Homo sapiens: one gene and its partners. The protein of the gene in region 3 interacts with the protein of the main gene of each other region in a biochemical or structural test. Each region holds a gene or a part of one and is shown on either strand. Other genes may lie near its edges.

Region 1 (5,094 bases), on a different chromosome or scaffold from region 3:
TGATTTTGTATGTCTCCAGTAAACCTGCTAAACTTTTCTATTAATCCTTATCTACAGATTCCATTGGAATTTTTATGTATAAATCATAGCCTATCAACAGCGACTATTTATTTATTTGGAATGCTGCATTTGCTAAGGCCACCAGCACAGTGCTGAAGACAAATAGCAACTGTAGGTCCCACTTTCTGGTTCTTGTCTTTAAAGGGAATACTTCTAATGCCTCACTGAAGAATCAAGTCTACTCTAGATTTTCTAGAGATACTTACCAGTTTCACCTATTTACTTTCTATTCCTAGGCTGCAAAGAAAATCATGAACAGCTTTAATTTGTAATCAAATGCTTTTCTCCTTTTGTCTGGGAATTACTCTGAATAATTTTTACCATGTACACACTGGTGTTTACATTGTGTCACTGGAGCACATATCCTTGGTCATGACTTTAAAATACATTGCTACATTTGGTTTGCTAGCTTTTAACTTAAGTTTTGAGAATAATTGCTCATGTATGAAATCAGTCTACAGTCAGTTTTCTTCTTTCACTCCTTGTTTTGTAGTGACCTCGCAATAAGCAGGGAGGCATTCCTTCTTGTAATGGCTGGAATGGTCTCTAAGACTAAAGCTCTAAGCACAGGCTTAGCTTCAGTCCTTAAGTTTTGACAGACATTTTTCCCATTATTCTCTCAGTTTTAGGTTTTTAATATCCATTACAATTCCTTTTTTGAGTTTAGAAGTGAATTTCTAAGGGTCACGTTCTTTTAAAGCTATCATTTTGCTACTGAATTTTCATGACTGCATTATGTCCTGAGATAATCATCTGTATGTTACTGAAAATAAGTAAAGGTTTTTGTAAAACCAGTCGACCTGAAACCGGTTTTCATGGGCCATGCTCTGTAGCCTGTTACACAAGCCAATTTCTATTGTGATTAAAGATTTATCAATTCTCATAGTTCTATCAAACTGCTAGATGTAAAATACAGTCTTCTGAACACATTTATGGGGGAAAAGGCACTTAGGGGCCTAAACTCTCCATCTCTTCATTAAGATTTATTGTGTTTAATGGAGACAACAGAAAGACATCAAGCTAGTATCTGAACATTCATTTGAATCAAATTAAAAATTTTAATGTTTGAGGTTTCTGCCCCACCATCCTCCCAATAACCTGAAGCTACCAGCAGGATCTCACCCCTGGTTACCTTTTGAAGACCGCAGTCTCTGTCTTGGCATCTACAGTGAGGCTGAGCGTTTCCTTCATGCCGCCATTCATCACTGTCTCAGTTACCTTGTCTGTACTTTCTGCATCCTCCTCTCCGTCAGAGCTGGCTTCCATGGCCACACTGCCTGCCGCTGAAAAGAACACAGCTGATGGTCACACACAGCAAGCCCGAAAAGGAACTGGCACCCCACCACTGTACAAACCCATCTACCCAACGTGACATCTACTGCTTGAAGAAAAAAAAGAGTGAGATGGCTTCTGCCTGCTGTTGTCTGGGCCACATTCTTGATGGGGAGAGACTTCTTAAAGATGCCCACTAAAGAGGGGTTTCATGGGTTTTCTTTACTAGAGACTAGCAAGTCGCCTACATCCCTCCCAGCTCAGCGTCCACCTCCATACCCAGCTTCTCCCAGCAGACACTTGTGCTCCTAACTGTTCCAGTGTGGGGCAGAGCAGGCAGTTACACACTCTACCCTCTACTCACTTGTTTTCCTCAGTTGGGCTCTATTTGCTTTGCTTTGTTTTAAAAATTACTTTCTTGTGGTGTTGCTGGTGGATCGTTTCTTTGTTCTCTAATGGGAAGCCAACATAGGTGATGAGCCTGGCTGAGGTGAGGCTTCCTGGATTCAAACATCGACATCACCACTTCCTAGCTGTAGACTACTTGGACAAGGAACCTCATCTATAACCTGAGTTTCCTCATCCAGGAAAGGGGATCAGTGCACCCACTTACAGAACCACTGAGGAGTCAAATGCGGGAATCTGTATCAAATGTTCAGGAGGATGATGAAACCAGCATTAGTTATTGGTTTTATTCCTTTCCCTTGCCCCTGGGAAGGAGGGTTCTCACACCCTCTACCAAAACCTCATTTCATTTTCTAAGAACTCACTCCTTAAGCCCACCTCATGATTCGTGCCCTCCACATCCTTTTGGTTCCCATCACACTCCCTTTGCTAGCATCCCCCTCCTCCCAAAGCCCCGTCCATCAAGGTGAAAACAGTTCAGGGCCGTGCAAGGAACACATTTGACTAGGTAGAGTAATAGGAAAACCCACTGGAACTTTAGAGATTCCCAGGACTATTCAATCTGCTTACAATGGCGAAGTGAAAATAACCAGCCCCATAGCTCTAAACAAACCCAGATACACCTACATGCTTGAGCAAAGCAAACTCCAAGGGACAACTACACACAGGCTTGGCTGCACACGTCTAATTCCAGTTTTATTCACCCTGGGTACTATGGGCTTAGGCCTTCTTCCCTCTAGACCTCAGTTTCCTAATCTGCACACTGCATGCCTGGTAACTTAGAGCCCTTACTCTTTCCAGAGTCAGCATGCTGTGGTTCTAGAAGGACAGGCACAATTTCTTTCATCAGCTGCCCTGTGGACATCAGACCCACCATCTCACTCCCGGGCTCCACTAGCCCCTGAGCCTGAGAATCAGGTCTGGTTTGACAAAGCAGCCACGTGACCCTGGCGTGTACCCAGGCCTCTCTGCACGCACCTTCTGGCTGCACTGCCAGGGCAGCCGCACTGGGAGTCAGAGGGTCCATGGGTTCAGTGCTGGTTTCCATTTCCACTGGAGAATTACTCCTTAAAGAATCTTTTGTGCTTTCAAAAAAGAGAAAATTCAGATATTAGCAGCAGGGAATGGTCCTCAGTTACCCCAAGATTCACAATAAGCCTTTACAAGTAAGTTTTTGTTAGGAGACATTAGCATCTGTGTAAGAGTCACTGGGTTACAAACTCCAGTGACACATGGATCTAAGTGCCAGTAGCTGTTTGAAGAAGGACATGAGTGCGGGCAGGCAAATGTTCTGTTAAGCCAGCAAGGCAGTAAGACAGGGACTTTGTAAAGCATTCTAGACAGGCTCATCATGTCCCAACTTCTCATCCCACCATAGTCACTAGGAGGCTCCCAGAGCTTGAACAGCAAAGACGTACATTGTGCAATGGCAACGGTATTTATCAGGTTGACTGGTTTTACAAAAACCTTTACTTATTTTCAGCCACACTGCCTGGGAGAGACTGGCCCTCTTAATGATATTTGTTGTTGGAACTGTGGAAACATAGTAAAAAAACACCAAATGCCTGAGCAGTAAGGGGTAGGGGTGAGGGAGATCATTACACTTCCTCTTTTATCCCTCATTCCCACAAACTCAGAGACGTGCACACAGAGGGTAAAGAGAAGCAAGCTGCTTCAATCACACCCTCAAGTAACCAAAGGCTCTTATCCTCGGGTTATAAACAGACCAAAAAAAGGAGTAGGCGGAAATGTATGTCCTGTACTGAAAAGCGGGGTAGACGAAATAACTCATTATTTTGGAGACATTTTTCACAAATCTCACTTGTACCTCTGAGTAGTAACTTAATGCTATTACTATGGTTACTACAAAGCAACATGGGTTTCAGCCTATTCTTTGGTTTGTCTAAGACACTAACTGTCAGCCCAAAACAGCTTGTCTTCCTATCTTCCGAGTTACCAATGATTGGGAGCCCTTAATTGACAGCACTGGACTAGCTGCAAGTGAACTGTAAGTTCATATTATCTACTGAATTCAAGATCCATTTTGTTTGCCTGCCACACCCCACACAGAGGTGCTGTGCCTGTCAGGATTTCTTGGCTTCACCTCATTCCTCTTCTCCTCAATTCTGTCCTGACAGCTCTATGAAGCCAGAAAAGCTCACGGAGATGCATCTTCTGCTGCGTCCTGCTAACTCCCTGGGACCGCATCCTCACAAGCTACTTTGTTCAAGAACTACTCCCATTTCCAATTAATCCAGGAGGAAAGGAAAGGAAGATGGTGATTGTTCTTCTTACAACACAGAGCTGTGTTAGTATGCTGATGTTTAATCTTTTTCAGGGCAGTATATTCAACTTGGAAGTCAGTCAAGGTGAAGAACACACGTTAACAGCAAACACCTGACCATTCCCAGGTCCCCCGTGGAAGGGTGTAGAGACAGCACATGTTCGCTCACCTCAGGGAAGACGTGAACTCTGAAAAAGAAGCCCAGCCCGTCTCTTTAGTTGGCATCGGCTCCTCTGTGCTCCAGACATCAGATCCCACAGAATCCAATGGAGCACCGTGGGTTGTTTCCATTGGGACATCAAAGTTAGCTGACCAGTTGGGTGCTAAAAAGAGGGGAGAAATTCTATTTGGAAAACACTTCAGTCGTTTCATGTACCACAAGGTATTTATCAAAAACACATTAGCAAAAGAGACTGGAGCTGTGGGAGAAAGACACTCTCACCAATGAGGGCAGGAGCGGACAGGGCACAGCCACCTGGAGGGCACTCTAACAATGATCCCACATTCTCAAACCTCCCATTTCTTTTTATTATTATTTTTTTGAGATGGAGTCTCGCTCTGTCGCCCAGGCTGGAGTGCAGTGGCACGATCTCCGCTCACTGCAAGCTCCGCCTCCCGGGTTCACGCCATTCTCCTGCCTCAGCCTCCTGAGTAGCTGGGATTACTGGCACCCGCCATCACGCCTGGCTAATTTTTTGTATTTTTAGTAGAGACAGGTTTCACTGTGTTAGCCAGGATGGTCTCAATATCCCGACCTCGTGAACCGCCCGCCTTGGCCTCCCAAAGTGCTGGGATTACAGGCGTGAGCCACCGCGCCTGGCCTCAAACCTCCCATTTCTAACAACTGTTCCAAAAGAAATACTACACAGAGATTCAAAGCTACATGCACAAAGAGGGATTAATGTTAATTTCTTAGTTTTGACAAATGTACCATGGCTGTATTCATACTTGGGGAAGCTAAGTGAAGGATATATGGAGACTTACTATCTTGGCAATGTTTCTATAAATCTAAATTATTCAAAAGTAAAAAGGTTATTTTTCTAAAAAAAGAACATGTTGATTATTCAACTCCA
Region 2 (5,094 bases), on a different chromosome or scaffold from region 3:
AGCCTGGCTCTGTCTCCCTCTTTAATGAGTAATTTTTACAAATTGCCAACCTCACCACTAGTTAGTACACAGTGACTGTAGTTGTCAGAGGCTCAAACGTGTATCTGGCCATCCGTGTTTCTCCTGCTTTCTGGGGAGCACTTCCCTACGCACTCATAAACTAACCCTACAGGGGTTCATGCCGCAGCCCTGTGAGGCTGGCAGGGCAGGCTGAAAGCGAATGCTCTCATTCCTGCTAAGTGATGGTGGACCTTTGCTGTCATTAGTAAACAGGCCTGGCATTTGCTGGGGCCCTGGAGGACCTGCTCTCGTGAAACTCATCATTTCCTGGCTGGCGGGAGGGGCTCACCCGTGCTGCACGTCCAGAAGCTGAGGCCAGTTGCCTCGCCTGAGGGTGGGAGGTAAAAGGTACAAGTCTGGGCTTGAACTCAGATCCTTCAATTCTGAATCTGCTGCGTCTGCCACTAGGGCAGCGTTTCCACTCTCTGCACTGTGGACATCGGCGTGGGTCACTCTCTGGGGAGGGGCCATCCTGGGCACTGCAGGGTGCTGAGCAGCGTCCCTGGCCTCCACCCACTCCATGCCAGGAGCACCCCCAGTCATGAGAAAAACACAAATGTCCCAGACTTGGCCCAGTGTCCCCTGGGGGCAGAATTACCCTCAATTGACACCTCTTGGGTTAGGGGATTCCACGGACCCCCAAGAGACTCCGTGGCCCATGATCCTCTGCTCTGCTGAGGTCCCAGGAGGCTACACACATTGAAATCCACAGAGGGGGAGAGGAAGAGAATCCCAGGAGCTGAGGTCCCCTGGTTTACACCGTCTGCCATATTGGGAGTTTATTCTGGTGTCTGGTGTGAGCAGGGAGCAGACTTGATTTTTTTTTCCCAAATAACTAATGCAGTCCCCCACTTGGCATTCAGGGCTGGATCCTTCTCTGGGTGAGTTTGTCCTGGGCACTGCAGGTGCTGAGCAATGTCCCTGGCCTCCACCCACTCCATGCCAGGGGCAGCCCCTCCTCTAGTTGTGACAAACACAAATGCACCCCCCGCACTGCCCCGTATTTCCAAGTCCCCTGGGGGCAAAACTGCCCTGGGGCAAGACCTCAGCTAGATTGGCAGCTTCCCCTCTGATCTAATCTACCAGGGACTCCACTGAGGGGATTCTGGGGGCCCCGATACCCGATCCATCTTAGCCCAGCCAAGTCCGCATCCCCAGAGCTCCGCAGCTGCCAGGCGCTTCTGAAACCAGCATCTGCAGCCCGGCAGAGCTGGCATGGTGACTCAGGCTGCCTTGGTTCTCCAGGGCACGTAGGGTGCGACTCCCCACCCAGGTGTCCCAGCTCAGCCCATCCCTTTGTCCCCGGTGGGAATTGTCTGTGCTTGGAGTGGCTCACACCCCCGACCACTTCCTTTTTCTTCTCATTTGCCTCGTGGCCCAGAGGATGTTGGCGGGCTGAGTCAGGGATAGACCACCCTGCCCCCTGCCCCCACAGGCCTGAACACGGTGAAGATTCTGCCCCTCAACACCGGACGATGTCTGGGGACATCTGTGGTTGTCAGGTTTTGGGGGAACTCCTGGCATGGAGTGGGTGGAGGCCAGGAACGCTACTCAGCACCCTGCAGTGCCCAGGACACTCCACCCCAGAGAATGACTCAATACCCAGGGGGAGACCCTGGCCCCAGCCCCACACAGGAAGTAACAACTTCCTCCTTCCCTGTGGGACTTATGGTCAATGAAATACGACATTAAACATAGCAATGATACAAATACGTTATTTTTTTTTTTAAGACGGAGTCTCGCTCTGTTGCCCAGGCTGGAGTGCAGTGGCGCGATCTCGTCTCACTGCAACCTCCGCCTACTGGGTTCACGCCATTCTCCTGCCTCAGCCTCCCGAGTAGCTGGGATTACAGCTGCCTGCAACCGTGCTCAGCTAATTTTTGAATTTTTAGTAGAGACGGGGTTTCACCGTGTTAGTCAGGATGGTCTCGATCTCCTGACCTCGTGATCCGCCCACCTTGGCCTCCCAAAGTGTTGGGATTACAGGCGTGAGCCACCGCGCCCGGCCAAAATACGTGCATTATTTTAACACACTTTTAAAACTAATAAGCTGAATATAAAGCTCTGCATTAAAGCCAGAAGACCTAAGAGAAAACCCACAACCTGTGGGGAAGAAAAGGGAGGGAAACCTCCGTGAAACTGACCCCTGCAGTAAGTAACCCTACAACCAAGATTCCAGTGCCGGCTGCTGGCCAGATCAGGGGAACACGCGCTTCCTGCAGAGTCATTCCCAAGCCCATCTGGCTGGAAAGAAAAGCCTTAAACTTGAGCCAAAACCTCTCAACCCAGAGGAGACTTCTCATCCTTGTGTAACCCAGGACGGCCCGGCCACACAGTTTTAAGAAGAATGAGACACAGGCTCTGACACGGAAGGACACCCAATATCCGATAAGTGCAAAAAATAAGTTGCAAAACAGTATGGATACCCAGACCTTTTTTTCTTTTTTGGAGACCGAGTCTTGCTCTGTCACCCAGGCTGGAGTGCAGTGGCGCAATCTCGGCTCACTGCAAGCTCTGCCTCCCGGGCTCAAGCAATTCTCCTGCCTCAGCCTCCCAAGTAGCTGGGATTACAGGCGCCCGCCACTACGCCCAGCTAATTTTTGTATTTTTGGTAGAGACGGGGTTCCACCATGTTGGCCAGGCTGGTCTCAAACTCCTGACCTCAAGTGATCCACCCACCTCGGCCTCCCAAAGTGCTGGGATTACAGGCGTGAGCTACTGCGCCCAGGCTCTAAGACCTTTTTTGTTAAAGAAGGAATAAAAGCCGGGGTGCGGTGGCTCATGCCTGTAATCCCAGCACTTTGGGAGGCCAAGGCAGGTGGATCACAAGGTCAGGAGTTTGAGACTGGCCTGGCCGAGATGGTGAAACCCTGTCTCTACTAAAAATACAAAAATTAGCCAGGCGTGGTGGCGGGCGCCTGTAATCCCAGCTATTCAGGAGGCTGAGACAGGAGAATCGCTTGAACCTGGGAGGCGGAGGTTGCAGTGAGCCGAGATTGTGCCACTGCACTCCAGCCTGGGCGACGAGCAAAACTCTGTCTGTAACAGAAAAAAAAAAGAGAAAGAAAGAATAATAAATTGCTACAACCATGAAAAAAAATAAGGAACTATTGTGTCTGGAAGGAAAGGTTTTTTTTTTTTTTTTTTTTAGCTGCCTGTTTGTTTGAGATGAGGTTTCGCTCTATCCCCCAGGCTGGAGTGCAGTGGTGCAATCACGGCTCACTGCAGCCTCAACCTCCTGGGCTCAAATGACCCTCCCACCTCAGCCTCTCAAGTAGCTGGGACCACAGGTGCACGCCACCACGCCCAGCTAACTTTTGTATTTTTGGTAGAGATGGGGTCTTACTATGTTGCCCAGGCTGGTCTCAAACTCCTGGGTTCAAGCTATCCTTCTGCCTTGGCCTCCCAGAGTGCTGGGATCACAGGCATGAGCCATAGCGCCCGACCCTCTGTGAATCTTTGTGGTAAACTGACATACTTTTCCCAGTCTGGGTATATAAGGAAAAAAACAGTCATTTTGATATACTCAAAAGGAAAAGGGGGTGAGGCGCGGTGGCTTACGCCTGTAATCCCAGCACTTTGGGAGGCTGAGGCAGGCAGACTGCCTGAGCTGGGCAACATGGTGAAATCCAGTCTCTACTAAAACACCAAAAAATTAGCCGGGCGTGGTGGCGCATGCCTGTAATCCCAGCTACTCAGGAGGCTGAGGCACGAGAATCTCTTGAGCTCAGGAGGCGGAGGCTGCAGTGGGCCCTGGTTGCGCCACTGCACTCCAGCCTGGGCAAGAGAAACTCCATCTCAAAAAAAAAAAAAAAAAAAAAAAGGAAAAGGGAAGAGGCCAGGCATGGTCCCCAGAAGGTATTGTGTCAAAGTCTGAAAGAAAACCCAAGTTCAGCTTTCTTTTGTGTGCAGCCAGGCACACGCTGGACCACAGCCACCCACTGTGTGTTCCAGAGACTTCTCTGGGACTCCGAAAGGCAGAAGTGAAGGCCTCCTCCCAGAATCCCGTTTCTGAAGTCGGATTTACCTTTTCGGCTTAAGCCATTTGACCTTCTAAATGCCAGGAAAACAGGAACAGAGCTCATCGGCTGGGGAAGGTCTAAAACTCCCCACCTTAAAACCCCAAGCTCAGTCAGCTGTGTGGGGAATTTTTCTGAAACCTCCACCATCAGGTCCCTAAGGTGGGAGGATACCTCCTTGGAAGGGAATTTTTTTTTTTTTCGAGACGTTGTCTTACTCTGTTGCCCAGGCTGGAGTGCAGTGGCGTGATCTTGGCTCACTGCAAGCTCCGCCTCCCGGGTTCAAGTGATTCTCCTGCCTCAGCCTCCTGAGTAGCTGGGACTACAGGCACGCGCCAGCATGCCCGGGTAAATTTTGTATTCCTCAGCCGATGAGCTCTGTTCCTGTCTTCCTGGCATTTAGAAGGTCAAATGGCTTAAGCTGAAAAGGCAAATCCGACTTCAGAAACGGGATTCTGGGAGGAGGCCTTCACTTCTGCCTTTCGGAATCCCAGAGAAGTCTCTGGAACACACAGTGGGTGGCTGTGGTCCAGCGTGTGCCTGGCTGTGTATTTAGTAGAGATGGGGTTTTGCCATGTTGGCCAGGCTGGTCTTGAATGCCTGACCTCAGGTGATCTGCTCTCCTCGGCCTCCCAAAGTGCTGGGATTACAGGTATGAGCCACCCGCACCTGGCCAGCACATCCCAATTCGGACCAGCCACATTGCAAGGCCTCCACAGCCACAGGTAGTAAGCTCAGCTCCAGAGTTAAAAGAGAAAAATCAACCTGTGGAAAGAGAGGGAGCTGGGAAGGGTGCAGTGGAACGGGTGTTGCTTGAGGTGGGTGCCTGTGTCGTCCCTGGGGAAAGGGAAACACATCCAGGGGGTCCGGAGGACAGGGACGTGACATGCTGGGATTTCACTTTCTTAGTTCTCACTCTGTAATCGGTAGATCTCAGTGAGTTCTAATAAACAGGTCCCTGACAACTGCGGTTAAGAACCCGGCTTCTGGAAGTTCTCAGGGCTGCAACTCTGCA
Region 3 (5,094 bases):
TGGATATGAGGATTCATTAAAAAATTATTTTAAAAATGTTTTTGGCCAGGCGCAGGGGGCTCACACCTATAATCTCAGCACTTTGGGTGGCTGAGACAGGTGGATCACCTGAGGTCAGGAGTTCGAGATCAGCCTGGCCAACATGGTGAAACCCCATCTCTATTAAAAATACAAAAATTAGCCGGGCGTACTGGCAGGTGCTTATAATCCCAGCTACTCGGGAGGCTGAGGCAGGAGAATCACTTGAACCCAGGAGGGGGATATTGCAGTGAGCCAAGATGGTGCCACTGCACTCCAGCCTGGGCGACAGAGCGAGACTCCATCAAAAAAAAAAAAAAAAAAAAATTGTTTGTCTGGCATATTTTCAAATAAAATGTAAAAGGTGTGACTCAAAAATGTTAATAATATTTAGAAACAATCAAGTCTAGCACATTCTTTCATTTCATAAGTCTAAACAATCAAGTCTAGCACATTCTTTCATTTCATAAGTCTAAGTGCCTAATGGAGTCACCCAAGTTTATCCAACAGAATCAAGACCTGACCCACATCTTCTGGCTCTCATCCAGTGATGATACCATCTTATATTTTACTACATCAATAAATTACATTATTATGAACAAACTAAAATAAATTTTATGAGTTTACTTACCACTCTGATAGTACTTAGAATCGTGTGTCCATCTGAAGCCAGTGCAGAGGCCAAAGTCAGTCAATTTAATATGACCATCACGATCAATCAAAATATTATCAGGTTTAATATCTCTATGAATAAAACCCATTTTATGAACACTTTCAACTGCACAGGTAAGTTCTGCTATGTAGAATCGTGCCAGACTTTCTGGAAAGATGCCCATTCTAATTAATAGGCTCATCATATCACCCCCAGGAATGTAGTCCATTACAAAGTATAAATTGTCCTTATCTTGGAATGAATAATATAGACGAACTACCCATTCATTGTCAGCTTCAGCCAGGATATCTCTCTCAGCCTTAACATGAGCGACTTGATTTCGAAGAAGAACATCTTTCTTTCGAAGAGTTTTTGTTGCATACAAAGCCTTAGTATCTACTTTTCTTGCTAGACAGACTTCACCAAATGCTCCTATTCCTAGTGTCTTTATCTTCACAAACATAGACTTGTCCATTTTAGCCCTTTTAAGACGGATGTAATTAGATTCTTTTTGGCAAAGCATCTTTCTCATTTGATCCTGGGCATCTTGAGATAATCCAACCTAGGCAAATAAACTAGATGTTAAATAAGAATTATCTTCTTCAATATTGAATATTAAGAAATAGCTTGGGAAAAATTCAGGCATATATTTAAAGGTTAAATGCATAATTTTTAATAAAGCATGTTAGAAATCTAGAAAACATTTCAAAGGAAATTAATGATCAAAAGTGCAGCCTAAGGGGTAGTTAAAAGGATATTCAAAGTGAGTACCTATGCAAATTCAGCTGTGGAGTGCAAGAAGAGGGTACCAGATGAGTAAGCTTTCTACTCTTCTCTAATGCACTCCGAAAAAAAAAAAAAAAAAGGTTCTCAATGTGCAACAAACATCTGTTAACATGTTAACATGCATATTCATTTATCTCTCTGTATATGCTTCTCTTGGTGGAATGCCTAGGCCTCAAATATTCTTCCTATTTTGTCTTTCATGAAAAAAAATTCTTCCACTCCAGGCTCATTTATTCTAAAAAATTAATGTACCAAAGAACAACAAAACAATGCCTTTTCTAACCCACCAATCCTTTCCCTATTCTCAATAAATATACAACAGTCATTAATAATCTTTCCTTTTCTATTTTTCAGGGCATCAGAGTAAAGGTGCGACTCACAGTCTACCACTAACACAAATTGCAAAGGGTTTCTCCTACTTCGAAAAGAACAACCTGGTTGTTTACAAGATATCCTTTGGATACTTAGGAATACTTCAGTGTGACTCATGAAAATATCAAAAAATAGATTAAAAACAAAAACTAACTTCTAAGTATTATAGATATGGAATGCCTGGATTTAGAAGGGAGAAACATTTTGGCTAATTAATAAAGAATTAATTAAAGGGTTTAAATAGAAAAGAAATCCAGTTGGAAAAGTGGGGTCTAATTCTAGAAATACAAGACTAAAATAGAACAACCACATGCTTCTGTTAGGATTCACATTTGCATGCAAAATCTTTTAAGAAGGATGGCATGCCAGACTTAGTTCAGAACTGTTTCTCTTAAAATCTTACTTGCCTACACAGTAATGGAGACTACAGAAGTCAGCAAAGCTTCCAACACCATAAAAGTTTAAATCAGCTATTAGTGAAAGTGAAGAGGAAAAAGGAAAAATAAACTAAGAAAATACACATAGGCAGACTTTAGTAAGAAATCCTAAGAATTAAAATATGGATAAGTCATAGAAATTATTATGGTATTTCTCATTTAATAAAATATAAAATAGAAATAACAATACTGTAAAATCAGATTTATTAAAATCATTTTAAAAGAATGGTTCAAGTATATAAAGGTGTTTAATCACAAGGTTAAGCCTCTTGGATTGTGAGTGACAGATGTAAGATTAGGAGTCAAATCTTTGAACTCTAAGCATATGATAAAAACAATAATGGCCAGGCACAGTGGCTCATGCCTGTAATCCCAGTGCTTTGGGAGGCAGACGCGGGTGGGTCATGGCGTCAAGAGATCAAGACCGGCCTGGCCAACATGGTGAAACCCCGCCTCTACTAAAAATAAAAAATTAGCTCAGCGTGCTGACGGGCGCTTGTAGTCCCAGCTAGTGGGGAGGCTGAGGCAGGAGAACTGCTTGAACCCGGGAGGCGGAGGTTGCAGTGAGCTGAGATGGCGCCACTGCACTCCAGCCTGGCGACAGAGTGAGATGTCGTCTCAAAAAAAAAAAAAAATGATGATCGTACTACCTTAATATCTAGAGATCTATGTGGAATGACAACACAGATTAAAGTGTGTTTACTTACTCTGATCTCCCTTTTAGTATAGTTTCACTAAATAATTTTAGCACATTTTTCTCCAGTATATTATAAAAATGAAATGAGAAGGGAGATATAACTGAAGGAAACTTCTTTACACTTTTTAATAAGATATATGTGATGAATAAACCTATAAACTCCAAATTTTCTAAAAGTAAATGTTTTATAAGTATATCAAGAGATGAGACCCACGTATTTCTTTTTTCTTTTTTTTTTTTTTTTGAGACGGAGTCTCACTGTCGCCCACACTGGAGTGCAGTGGCGCGATCTCGGCTCACTGCAACCTCCGCCTCCGGGGTTCACGCCATTCTCCTGCCTCAGCCTTCCAAGTAGCTGGGACTACAGGCGCCCGCCACCATGCCCAGCTAATTTTTTTTGGTATTTTTAGTAGAGACGGGGTTTCACTGTGTTAGGCAGGATGGTCTCGATCTCCTGACCTCATGATCTGCCTGCCTCAGCCTTCCAAAGTGCTTTGATTACAGGCGTGAGCCCCCATGCCCCAGCCTGAGACCCACATATTTCTAGTTTATTTTTAAATGTTGTAAGATATTGTATGAAGCCTAGAAGACAACCCTTCCTCCAATTTTCATATAAAGGTATTATGTACACCTAAACTGTATACCGCAAATTATATTTTTCTTAATTTACACGAGATTTTATTATAGGAAATTCTGAATAAATATTGAAATACTAAAATAAAATGCTACAATCAAAAGTACTTTAATATTTATTCACTTTTAAATTCCATAACTGATAATATATTTTATTTAGCTATAAAAAGAAAGAAAAATACTGGACACAATATTTTAAAATAAACACCAAGCAAACAGATGATTAAGTATAAAAATGGACATTTTAAAAGGTTTTACCCGCATCATTTCATTCTCTAATTGTTTTTTACGATGTAGACGCTGCTGATGAGATTTGAGTACATTTTCTACATGTTGCTCCATAAAGAATTTAAATGCTTGAGGAGAATAACTTTGAATACGAGATTCCCTTCGCTCTTCATCTTTCTTGTTTTTCCTAACAGTAATAGGTGAAGTTGTAATCTGTTTCTTTTCTTTATCCCCACTATCAACATTTTCATAACTCTTTTCACTCTCATCTTCCTTGGGCAAGCTTGGCTGATCCTCTTTGCTAGGCTTACTGATTGACTCGTATGGAGGAACAGATGGGTTTTGGTGCAGCAGATGTTTTGGGTAGGGTGGTGGTGGTCCTTGATAGTTTGGAGCTTCAGCAACAGGTGGCATCACAGTCACATTTGAAGCGGTTCCCTCAGGAAAAGGACTGGGTTGAACAGTTTGAATTGGCTGTGGTATCCAAGAAGGGTGTGTAGGTGCTAAAGCAGTCTGTAGCTCTGGTTTTAATACACGCATACTTTTCACAGGCTGTTGAATAGGAGCTGGTGTAATTGCAGTGACTGTTGTAGCAGAAGGCTGAGAATTAGCAGAGTGACTTGCTCTATTTCCTAATGGGTTATTAAAAGAATTTGACCTCACTGGTATGTTAGGTTGCCATGTAGGGATTTCATGCCCACTGCTCGGGGATGACTGGGCTGGAGCAGAAGATGACTGAGGCCAATTTGTTTGCAGTCCAGGTACACTAATGTTATATAGTTCCATGTTATGACTATTTCTGTTTGGCACCATCATAGACTGAGGAATACTTCCATTTGTATATGACGAAGGAGCAGCAGATCCCCCTGTTTGTAAAGCAGAAGGGCTTTGTCCATTAGCTGCTGTCAGAGGATATGGAGGTGGTGGCTGCCGATTCACAGTGCCAGCAGGGACAACATTTTGGTGTATCATGAAATCAGTTTGTCCAGTACCATTCTGCATTCCAGGTCTCCCTGATGGAAAGTTAAATTTGCTAGAACTCTGCATGATGATTGGTTGTCTGCCAACAGGAACAGAACTAATGCCTCTCTGTCCTTGATTAGGAGGATTCATGGGGGAAGTGTTGAGAGGTGGTGGAGGATAGCCCTCTTGCCATGCCCCAGGTGGGACAGGAGAGATTCGGGAGATTACGTATTCCATGTTTCCAGAATAGCGCTTTGTTTGAGAGTTTGGTTCCCATGAAGGGGGAGGTGGAGTTGTACCTCTTGGAG
Region 4 (5,094 bases), on a different chromosome or scaffold from region 3:
GAATTACAGGCATGACCCACCACACCCAGCCCTACTTAACTTTTGACACAGATTACTTGCTATTGAAAAGGTGCATACCCCGTGACAAGAGGAAACATAGGCTTAAATTTATAAGAAGAAATTTAGTGAGGATAAATGCCAAGTCCTGTTCTTTATATCAGAAAATCAGTTACTTAGAAGTAACATGCTGATTTAAAAGCTGTTTATATATAAAAAAACACTGGAATTTTTTAGAGCACTCAAAAGTATGAACAATAATATGTTGTCTGACGTGTCATTAGTAAGAGCACACTGACAAGAATGCAGGGAGACCGGGCGCGGTGGCCCACGCCTTTAATCCCAACACCCTCTGAGGTCGAGACAGGCAGATCACTTGAGGTCAGGAGTTCGAGACCAGCCTGGCCAACATGGATGAAACCCCATCTCCACTAAAAATAAAAAAATTAGTCGGGCGTGGTGGTATGTGCAGGTAGTCCCAGCTACTCAGGAGGCTGAGGTGAGAGAATCACTTGAACCCGGGAGGCAGAGGTTACAGTGAGCTGAGATCGCGCCACTGCACTCCAGCCTGGGCGACAGAGCGAGACTTTGTCTCAAAAAAAAACAAAACAAACAAAAAAAAGATTTAGAAAGGAATTTGATACCTGTCTTCCAATATTTGAAAATACTGTAGGTAGAGAATAATTTAAAACCCCTTTTAGTAGGTCATTAAGTAAGATGCTTAGATTATCACTTTTGGGGGATGTTTTCAGGGCTGGAGAAGAGGACCTTCCTCAGTTAAAAACAGACAAAAAATTTACTCCTTATCCATTCTGCTTAATTGGGCTAAATGAAATCCTTCTATTTTTTTCAATAGAGCTAAAATTTTTAATCTTCAGTTCTCTAAATCCTTTTTAAAAATGTGGTTCCATCTTAAAATTAAATTACATTATTTTAAAAAATGTAGTTAGGAAGTTAAAATGTGATGTTAAAATATAATTATTAAAATATAACTAGTTCCAATCTAAAAAGAAATTATAAGATTGCATTATTGAATTTCAAAGACCATTTTCTGAAGACTTTTCCTTAAAACTTACTAAGATATTAAACCTGTATGTTTTATTCATATGCATTGATAGATATTTACATTCACAGGTATTGTATTTACAACTAACGATTTTTCAATTTACTACTGTAGATCATACCTCACTCCTGTTAGGGATGAAGAGTCTGAATCCCAAAGAAAAGCAAGATCTAGACAAGCAAGACAATCTAGAAGATCAACACAGGTATAGTTAATGTAATTAATATATAAAACTTACATAAGTAGCATATAAAATATATATACACACACTGACATAAAACAAGTTACCTTTCTCTTTTTCACTTTGTTGTGAAAATATTGATGTCAGTATATAGTGTGAGTAAATCCTTAAAAGGTAAAGGTTGCTGTAGTTATTCTAGTAATTCTAGTGTGAATAAATCCTTAAAAGGTAAAGGTTGCTCATAGCCTTTTGTATGGTTACACTGCTACTATTGTATTTCATCTAATTAGCATATGCCTTTGTGTCTTTTTGAGTATTTTTTAAATCCTTATTCCTAATACAGTGTCTGGCCCAGAGTATTTGGTTAGAATAAATTAATCATATGATGTCTAATAAGTATTTAAAAGTTCTATGAATATTTGGAAATCGGGGGCAGAGAATAGGCTCGTATATTAGGTATAAACAACTAATATGCAAGTATGAAGAAAATGTCATTCAGGCTGGCGATCTCCTTACCTCCGTTTTGCCATTCTGATTATGCTGTATATGATGTATACTTTTGTGTCTTTCTGCTTTCCCACAGTTAAGAAGCTCCACAGTCCAGATTCAGCTGTCTATCCTTACCATTACTTAGCTTTCAAGCTGAACTATTTGCTAGGGCCTTAATATACTTTTTCTGTCTTTATACTTTTCACTTCTTGAAATCTAACCTGTTCTTCAAGGTCAAATCTTGAAAAATTTATCGAAATCTCTTTTAAGCCTTAACAATCATCATGCATGTGTATATAGATACATATACACACATATATATACACACACACAGACATATATATAAACATAAATATTTATAATATACAAACAGTACAGATACTGGCTATTCTTCTCTAGTTTGAACTTGTGGGGAACATTTATATGCATAGAGTATCCAGTACCTATCGTTGTGCTTGCTAATGGTGATTCTTCATAGAATGAATGTAACTTGCTGTTTCCATTTGCAAACCAATTTTAAACATGCATATTTGACTTTTAATGCATTTGTATGTAATATATCTATTTCTAAAATATTCCTTGAAACAAGCTTTAATGCATCTCATAATTATATTGATCTTTTTGTGTGTGCAGGGAGTGACATTAACTGATCTTCAAGAAGCTGAGAAAACAATAGGAAGAAGTCGTTCTACCCGAACCAGAGAACAAGAAAATGAAGAAAAAGAAAAAGAGGAAAAAGAGAAACAAGATAAAGAGAAACAAGAAGAAAAGAAGGAGTCAGAAACATCTAGAGAAGATGAATATAAACAAAAGTACTCCAGAACGTATGATGAGGTAACAGTATATCAAAAGCACATTTAAGTCAAATGGTATGAATAGTCCTTATGATCCTTAACATACAAGAGATTTATATACCAACAAACCATATGCAAAATACTGTAAAGGATTTTAGCTGGAAATTTGAATTACTTTGGCGTGATTAGTATACTACTTTTTCTTTGAAATGAATTTTTAAGTATTTTTATGTTTTTAATTGTGTTTAATGTTTCAAATGGGTTTTGATCTTAATGTTTCACAGACTTACCAGCGTTATAGGCCAGTATCAACTTCAAGTTCAACCACTCCATCCTCTTCACTTTCTACTATGAGCAGTTCACTGTATGCTTCAAGTCAACTAAACAGGCCAAATAGTCTTGTAGGCATAACTTCTGCTTACTCCAGAGGAATAACAAAAGAAAATGAAAGAGGTAAGAATACCAAATTTTGAAAACACTTTGCTTTCTTCATATAATCCTTTGGATTAGGGTTTCCTAAATAATAATTCAACAGTAAAGGAACAGCATCCTAACTTGTGATTCATCGAACCTAAACAGAAAGAATATGAAGGTTGAGAATGAGAAAAGTAGAAAACAGAAATAGAATATGGCCTGCTGTTGATACTAATATTTTTATAACCTAATACTTCACAAAAATCTTCATGTCCACCTACAACGAAAAGTTAATATCGAACTGGTGGGTGACTATTTCTAGAAGCAGTTTACTAGTGTAGTACTTCTCAGATGCTTTAAGCTATTTCTTGCCTACTGTGTAGATCATATCATTTAAATGTTTTTTTGTGAAATTGTTGTAAACTAAAATTACTAACTACATGTAATGCTCTCACTAAAACACATTTTTATGCTTATTTCTTAAAAAATACATTTCTTTCTCAACTATATATTGGCATATTGATACTCATTACCATTTCCTATTATTTTATATAAACTTTCTATTTAAATTCTGAGTAATTCCTACTTTAAATCAGATATAAGTACTAAATATAGGCATTTCATATTTTAAAGCCTAAATCTTACAGTATTAGTCATGATAATATCAGTAGTAATGTAGAATAAACAGCAGAAAATAAAGTTTTTTCCCAATTTCCAGCTATATATTTTCTCATGTTGATCATTGAGATGTTTCAGTTCTTTAAACTTCTATGTGTGAGGCCTGCATTGTGTTTGTAAAAATGTTGAACCAACATTTAAAATTAGAGATACTCACTTCAAACTTCAGATTTTTGCCATTTCTTGAAAAGTTGGCTGACCTGGCAACACTGGATCTGAATTCTCACATACCAACAATTGGCTGGAGCTAAGTAGTAGCAGCTGCCTACCTTCCATCCCCCTAGATAGTCCCCTGGCCCATTTTACCCATTGTTTTTACAATTACCTTGCAAAATATTGTCAAGATATATTGCTATATTGTGGTTCATTGCAATCCTTAACAGAGGGAGAAAAAAGAGAAGAGGAGAAAGAAGGAGAAGATAAATCACAACCTAAATCAATCAGAGAACGACGACGACCAAGAGAGAAAAGAAGATCTACAGGAGTTTCATTTTGGACACAAGATGTGAGAACCTATTAAAATACATTATTTGATAGTATTCTTGATAGTATTCTTAATGTGTCCAAAAATACATACTAATAATTTCTTATATGCCTTAGATTTCATATTCCTTAAATCATCACTGTGTTTTCTGAGTTGTTAAATAAGAAAAATTATTTTTAAGGATAGTTAACTACTTAGATTGTTGGTACTACTTAAAAGGAGTGGTTCTGACCTAATTATGGAATAGAAATAATAATGTCTGAAGCTCAGAGTGCATGTATTGATTATTTTATAATAGGTAAACTGCTTCTTGTAAAAACATCTTTTAAGAATTTCTAAGGAGTCTATTTAATTTCATTTTCATAAATATCATTATAAGATCTACATTACAGATTACTTCCATCTCAAAGCATGCTAAATAGACACAGTGCTTTGCTTATCAAATTACAACAGTCTTGTAAAAATTAGTGTTTTCCTGGTCCTTGATTGTAGGCCTGACATTGCTATTCATTGATTTTGTTTCCATTTTCTAAAAAATAAACCTTTTATTGAAGTATGGCATGTTTAGAAACATAATTCATACATGTATAGCTTAATGGATTAGCACAATAGGAGCATATCTATGTAATCACCACTCAGAATGATGAATAAAAACAGCAGTGTAGATTGCCCCCATGTTCTCCCTCTCAATCCCTATCATCCTCATTTTCAAAGTCAGCTAGTATCCTGATTTCTAACACCGTAGTTAACTATGCCTGTTTTTGAAGAGCATATGACTAGAACTATAAATTTTATAACTGTTATGTTTATAAGATATATCTATGCTATTTTATGTAGCAGTACATTTACTTCTATTGTTATAAAAATATTTTTTAAAGAAAATTTCTAACTATTCTTTCACTGAAAGAACATGGAATCATCTGTCTTCCTGTTAAACTGACCCATCTCTCACTATATGTTCCTCTTTATCTCTAATATTATATCTGACCTTAAA

What was found.
Region 1: of the proteins of LATS1 (region 3) and PPP6R3, one has a biochemical effect on the other in vitro, tested with the Homo sapiens proteins (one study listed by BioGRID).
Region 2: the proteins of LATS1 (region 3) and MOB3A form a complex in vitro, tested with the Homo sapiens proteins (one study listed by BioGRID).
Region 4: of the proteins of LATS1 (region 3) and PPP1R12A, one has a biochemical effect on the other in vitro, tested with the Homo sapiens proteins (one study listed by BioGRID).

What each region holds. Positions count from the first base shown.
Region 1 is NC_000011.10:68,599,591-68,604,684, reverse strand, and holds part of PPP6R3 (serine/threonine-protein phosphatase 6 regulatory subunit 3), read right to left. Parts: intron 4,345-5,094; coding exon 4,191-4,344; intron 2,823-4,190; coding exon 2,716-2,822; intron 1,344-2,715; coding exon 1,193-1,343; intron 1-1,192.
Region 2 is NC_000019.10:2,088,894-2,093,987, forward strand, and holds part of MOB3A (MOB kinase activator 3A), read right to left. Parts: intron 1-5,094. UniProt on the Homo sapiens protein: May regulate the activity of kinases.
Region 3 is NC_000006.12:149,679,226-149,684,319, forward strand, and holds part of LATS1 (serine/threonine-protein kinase LATS1), read right to left. Parts: coding exon 3,854-5,094; coding exon of another isoform or gene 3,791-3,853; exon of another isoform or gene 3,689-3,790; intron 2,299-3,688; exon of another isoform or gene 2,236-2,298; intron 1,233-2,235; coding exon 650-1,232; coding exon of another isoform or gene 642-649; intron 1-641. UniProt on the Homo sapiens protein: Negative regulator of YAP1 in the Hippo signaling pathway that plays a pivotal role in organ size control and tumor suppression by restricting proliferation and promoting apoptosis.
Region 4 is NC_000012.12:79,794,665-79,799,758, reverse strand, and holds part of PPP1R12A (protein phosphatase 1 regulatory subunit 12A), read left to right. Parts: intron 1-1,174; coding exon 1,175-1,265; intron 1,266-2,363; coding exon 2,364-2,564; intron 2,565-2,808; coding exon 2,809-2,977; intron 2,978-3,999; coding exon 4,000-4,121; intron 4,122-5,094. UniProt on the Homo sapiens protein: Key regulator of protein phosphatase 1C (PPP1C). Mediates binding to myosin. As part of the PPP1C complex, involved in dephosphorylation of PLK1. Capable of inhibiting HIF1AN-dependent suppression of HIF1A activity.